Linked DNA regions of Homo sapiens. The protein of the gene in region 2 interacts with the protein of the main gene of each other region in a pairwise test. Each region holds a gene or a part of one and is shown on either strand. Other genes may lie near its edges. The genes, in order: FAM200C and CEP126.

Region 1 (2,542 bases), on a different chromosome or scaffold from region 2:
TTGTAGGCAATGTCTTTATGACAAGTGCATGAGGATTCAATAAACAATGTGTAACTACGATATGAGGTATCTCTTTTTTCACGTAGGCAACAAACTCGGAATTTTCTCCTAGCATAGAGGAGGCACCATCAGTACAAACAGAGCCACATACATCAAGTGCTATCTTATGCTTCAGAAAGAAGTCTCTGAAGAGATTGAACACATCTATTCCTTTCATGGATAGCTGCAATGGTTCACAGAAGAGAAATTCTTCTACGATCTCTCTTTCTTTTATATAGCGCACAAATGCCATTAGCTGACTGCAGTCATCCATGTCAGTTGTCTCAGCAAGCTGAATACCCACTTTAAGAGGACTGGCTTTGATATCTTCTAGAACTTGCTGTAAGATATCCTGGCTCATTTCATCAATTCTAGAATGGATCACATCATCTGATAAGGGTACCTGCTGAAGCTTTTTTTGTGCATCTGGTCCCAAAACTATTTGTGCTATTTCCAGTGCACAAGGTTTCACTAACTTTTCAGCTACTGTATGAGGATTCTTCTCCTTGGCACATAAATACGCAAATTGATACGATGCTTGTAATAAAGTATCCTCATGAGATGCAACTCCAAATGCTTTCAAGGTTTCACTCTGATCAGATGGTGCTGGCATATGCTTCAGGCTATTGAGATCATGCCCAGCTACACCACCATGCTGTCTGTTAAAATGGTCTGACAGTTTTGATGGTCTGAGGTCAGCATTTGAAAATACTGAGTTACACAACACACACTGTGGACGCTGAGTTCCATCTACTTCCGTTGTACAGGTGAACCAGTAGCGAACATAGTCATCATCCCATTTGCGTTTCTTCGACATGGCACACAAAAATTCTCAGGTAGTATTCCAGAGATGCCACAGAATTTTGCTTTGGGAGTAAAATATAACCCACACATTAAAAACCAGTGGCTAACTGAATTAAAACAAAGCCACATCACATGCTATCTTGTATATGTCAAGATACAGCCTGCAGCATGTCAATTCGAAGTAAGCCATGACAGGATATAGTTCAACTTAAAGCTAGCAACTCATAGCTAATGCCCTGGAATAAATGATTTGCCAGCAAGTTATATATGGGAGATTTGAGCTTAGACAAGTTATGAACACCTGTAAGTCCTTTATTGGTGAATTATAGTTATGGCTTAACTTGTTTTCAATAATGTATGTTACAAACAAATCTAGCACATTTTGTATCCCTAGAAAGGGCATCTCACTACCACCACCTTCTTCCACTCAGCCCCAAAGATGTATGCATACCCTCAGTTAAGAATCACTGAATAAAGGAGCAATTCACTAAATAAGGAAGGGTGGATTCTGACATGGAGGTTAAAATAATTGTATACATTTATGGGGTACAAGCACAATTTTGTTATATGCATAGACCACATAGTGGCAAAGTGAGGGTTTTTAGGGTATCCGTCACCCAAATAACATACATTGTACTCATTATTTCTCATCTACTCCCTCCCACCCCACTCTTCCACCCCACCCTTCCAAGTCTCCTTTACCCATCACTCCATTATCCACGTCCATGTGTACACATTATTTAGCTACCATTTATGAGTGAGAACATGGTAGTTCTTTTTAATAGTTAAAGACTAAACAGGTCTGTAATACTATTTGAACCTTGAGCAGTTTTGACTCCAACTTAGGCAGAGAATTTCAAATAGGTCTTTAAGTCTGATTAAGCCACCCCTGATGCAAAGGTAGGCTACAAATTGGCTCAGAGCTTCCTTGCTGCTAAGTGTAACACACTATCAGTCCATGATTCATAGTGTCCATATAAAAAAGCAAAATGGTCGGGCGTGGTAGCTCATGCCTGTAATCCCAGCACTTTAGGAGGCTGAGGTGGGTGGACTGCCTGAGCTCAGGAGTTCGAGACCAGCCTGGGCAATATGGTGAAACCCCATCTCTACTAAAAATACAAAAAATTAGCTGGGCATGGTGGCATACGCCTGTAGTCCCAGCTACTAAGCCAAGATCATGCCACTGCACTCCAGCCTGGGCGACAGAGCAAGTCTCTGTGGAAAAAAAAAAAAAAAAAAAAAAGCAAAACAACTTGCTCAGGGGAAACACAACTATTCTTGTTACCGAGACTTCAGAAAAATCCCTCTCATAGGAGAACACTCTTAAGTAAAATAACGAATTTCATGATGCTTTTCCACCTAAATACCTCTAAGGGAAAGCAGTCAAGAACACACACATGCACATACACAAAATAAGCAGCATTCCTAAGGTTTGGTTTAACCCAAAGACAGGATGTAGAAGGCCCTACCCATAGAGATTCTGATTCTCCAGCTATGGAGTGGGGGCCTAGAATCTGTATTGTAAGTATTTTAGATAATTCTTATAAATAGTAACTAGAACAGTGATCTGTGACAAGAGACACCATATCATCACAATCACTGGGAAACCCTTTCAAAATATACACGTCCCTGCACTACCTTAGAACTAATACATATCTTCTCCAGAAGCAGAACAAAAGAATATGAAATAATGTTGTTC
Region 2 (3,839 bases):
CTCAGCCTCCCAAGTAGCTGGGACTACAGGCATGTGCCACCACACCTAGTCAATTTTTGTATTGTCAGTAGAGACGGGGTTTCACCATGTTGGTCAGCCTGGTCTCGAACTCCTAACCTCAGGTGATCCACCTGCCTCGGCCTCCCATAGTGGTGTGATTACAGGCGTGAGCCACCGTGCTTGGCCTCATTACACAGATATTTGAGTACTTACTAACAAGTTGCCCTCATAGTCATGAATATAAGAAAATGAAATAAGAAGATTGTATTTTACTAATAGAAAGTAGATGGAGTAAATGTTTCACCAGATCCCTTAATCTATAGTAGGAAAGTACATTTTCAAATATTAAACAATCAAATAGCAATATAACTAGAATGGTTAGGAATACAGTTTAGTTATTTACTTAGTGACTTAGTGGTTATAAAAAACCACTAGGAAAACTATGTATAGTCATCTGTGTATCCAGAAGCTTGTCAGAGAAAAAGAGGAATATTTTGGTTATCCTAATCATCTATTCACTTGAAATTTATTTTATAAAATTAAACTCTCCTTAAATAAGTTGTAGCAATATGAGTAATTTCTCCAATTTATTTAGTTGCGTTTTAATTGACATTATTAAGTATCTTTATCAAATTTGTCAGAGTAATTTTCTGTTTTTCATGAGTCTTCTGTTTTTAATGATTTTGAATTAAAAGAAGTTCATTTGGCTGGGCGCAGTGGCTCACACCTGTAATCCCAACAATTTGGGAGGCCAAGGTGGGCAGACTGCTTGAGCCCAGGAGTTTGAGATGAGCCTGGGCAATATGGTGAAACCCCGGCTCTACAAAAAATGCAAAAATCAGCCAGGTGTGGTGGTGTATGCCTGCAGCCCCAGCTACTTGGGAGGCTGATGTGGGAAGATCGCTTGAGCTTGGAGGGGGTTGAGTCTGCAGTGAGCTAAGAACACGCCACTATACTCCAGCCTGGGCAACACAGCGAGACTCTGTCTCAAAAAAAAAAAAAAAAGTTCATTGAATTACCGTGTAATCACATTTAGTACCTCATCATTAGATGTAGAAATATATGAGATTATACTGAAGTTATAGATTGTAGGGCATATCTATTTGTCTTTTTTAGAACAAACAGCTTGTTTAAAAACTTTTTACGCTAAGATGGAGGTCCAAAATTCTCTTTAAAGGCTGCATTTAATCAAGATTGTAAAAATCTCATAAATTGATTATTAATGGTAAAACAGAATACTAGAAATACACTCAATAATAAACTATGCGGTACATAATTTGTTAATTCAACATGTTAATTTCAGGATCCTATAGTGCTTCAGCATCAATATTATAAAGAAACTCTATTATTACATATTTCAGAATAACAGGTTTATTTGAACATTTTGTTGTTTAGACCTTTGCTGATGGGGGCTTATTTGTTTTCTTTTGTGTTGCTATTTAACCATCTTTATACCATAGGCCATAATTCATTTTACCTTCATTTTAAATAAAATTTTACACTACTTCAAGACAAAGACCCAAACACACTCACAAACATATTTTTACTTAAAGATTTCTTTTAAAGGATTTATAAAAATCAAACCAAAAGGGAAGAAAATTTGGTTCTTTGCTAGCACAGAAAAACTGTTTTTCTCTGATAGAATATTTTAACAAGAGCCAGACTTCAACAAGATGTCTAGGTATTAAAAGTGACAACTCGGCAGTAAAGAAAAGTGCAACTTCCTTTCAGGGTGCACAGGGCCAACATGAGGTTGAGGGGAGGAAGATGCTTTGGCTTAAGTGAGAAGCAAGGAGGAGACAGTTCTGTTCTCTGTTTGACATGTTTGAAGTCTCATCACGACAGCATAAAGAAAATCACAAATGTAATGTTTGTAATGTTCTGACAACTATATAGTCTTCAATTTAACCAAATGATTTTCTACTTTCTTTATATATAAGTATAATAGTATAGTATGTTTCCTGCTGAATTATTAATTATTAATATAAAGAATCCTGCTGCTTTTGTATCATTTCAAATATGGTATTCAAGTTTAAAAAAATTAGATGGCTGGTTAAATTTTGTTTTTTTATACAAGCTGTATGGTAAAGGTAGGAGTTCCATAAAAAAAACACTGCTAAATACCTGTCCAAAAGAAGGGAATTTTTATATACTTAACATTAAAAAAACAAAACCAAGAATAATATGTATTGTAACATGTGATTTTAAAGCATAGCTTATTCTACCCCACTCTATCCTCACTTCTCCTCTCCCAACTTAGTCTTTTATCCAGTTAGGTTGTTTAAAATGTTGCCATCACAAATAACTATGTATTATATAACCCATTTTTTCCCCAAATCTATTAAAGCTATGTTGATTCGATTTTTCCTCTACTGTACCTTCTTCCTCTCCCTTAACTCAGGTACTCTAAATCCCTTGCTTGGACGACTACAGTGCTCCTCTAATTCTTCTTACTCTAAACCTCTATTTGAACCTACACAAAGTCAGCTAAATGCAAATCTGATTGTGTTTCTCTTTGTTGTTCTCCAAAAGCTCCCTATCACCTTCATGAAAAATTCCAAAGTTCTTGGACCTATATATAAACCATTCTATAATATAGTTTGTTTTTTCAACTTTATTTCTTAACATTTCCCTGTATGAATCCTATGTCCAGACGCACTAAGATAATTATAAACAGAACAACCCGTGATGTATCATACCATTATCTCTTGGCACATGCTTGGCTAACTCTACTCATCCTTTCAGGGCCATCTCAAGCAGTTCGTTCTACCTTGAAGCCTTTTCTAACCTCCACTAGATGACTTGATGACACCTTCATGAGTACATGATAAGTGTCTTCTCTACATTTCTGTAACTCTCACGCCTGGCATGGTTCTTAGAATATAGTAATGATTTAATAAAAACCTCCTGAATTATTCCCTTGGAGAAAATTCTCTGGGGTAGATATGAGGACAAAAGGCATATGCATTTTTATATCTTTTAGTGCATTATAGAAAACTTGGCTCCTAAGGGGGTTATACAAAAGTATATGCCATTAGAAATGTATTATGTACCTAAGTTTCAAAATCTCATGAGCATGGGGCAGTACCTTTTAGAAACACAAGGTACAAAACTATGTTTTATTATGTATGTATTAGCAAAATACAATTTATTTATTTATTTATAGACAGGGTCTCACTCTGTTGCCTAGGCTGGAGTGCAGTGGCATAATCTCGGCTCACTGCAACCTCCACCTCGCAGTCTCAAGCAATCTTCCTGCCTCAGCCTCTTAAGTAGATGGTACTACAAGCATGCACCACAACACACAGCTAATTTTTGTATTTTTTGTAGAGATATGGTTTCACCACGTTGCCCAGGCTGGTTTCGAACTCCTGGACTCAAGCAATCTGCCTACCTCGGCCTCCCAAAGTGCTAGGATTACAGATGTGAGCCACTGGGCCCAGCTGAATGGGTTCACTTCACTTTCTATAGTAAAAGTAAGATCCCATCAGTGAGCCTGGGGGGAAAAAAAGACAGGTGGGTGGGAGTGTGTGTGTTTGTGCTGTTTGTTGGAACAGACCTGTCAGGGCATCCAAGTCTTATCAAGTGGTAAGACAGTCTATCGAGTGTGATGGAAGGTGACAGAGACCTGGCAGAGGCATTCATAGGAAAAAGAAAGAACCCTGTTCCTGTTTAGGTGAAGCTGGAAACCATCAATCTTTAGTGGTACAATCTGTATTGTTTTGTGATTTTTCTTTGACAGCATTTTTATTATTCGCATGAAGGAGTAAAGGAGCAGGACTATAGTAGTTATTGAGTGGCTGAGGCAGAATGATTGGGGTACAAATAGCCAAAGATGT

Evidence for each region.
Region 1: the proteins of CEP126 (region 2) and FAM200C interact in a two-hybrid assay, tested with the Homo sapiens proteins (one large-scale study listed by BioGRID and IntAct).

The regions. Positions count from the first base shown.
Region 1 is NC_000005.10:160,394,635-160,397,176, forward strand, and holds part of FAM200C (protein FAM200C), read right to left. Parts: intron 906-2,542; 5' UTR 857-905; coding exon 1-856.
Region 2 is NC_000011.10:101,917,772-101,921,610, reverse strand, and holds part of CEP126 (centrosomal protein of 126 kDa), read right to left. Parts: intron 1-3,839. UniProt on the Homo sapiens protein: Participates in cytokinesis. Necessary for microtubules and mitotic spindle organization. Involved in primary cilium formation.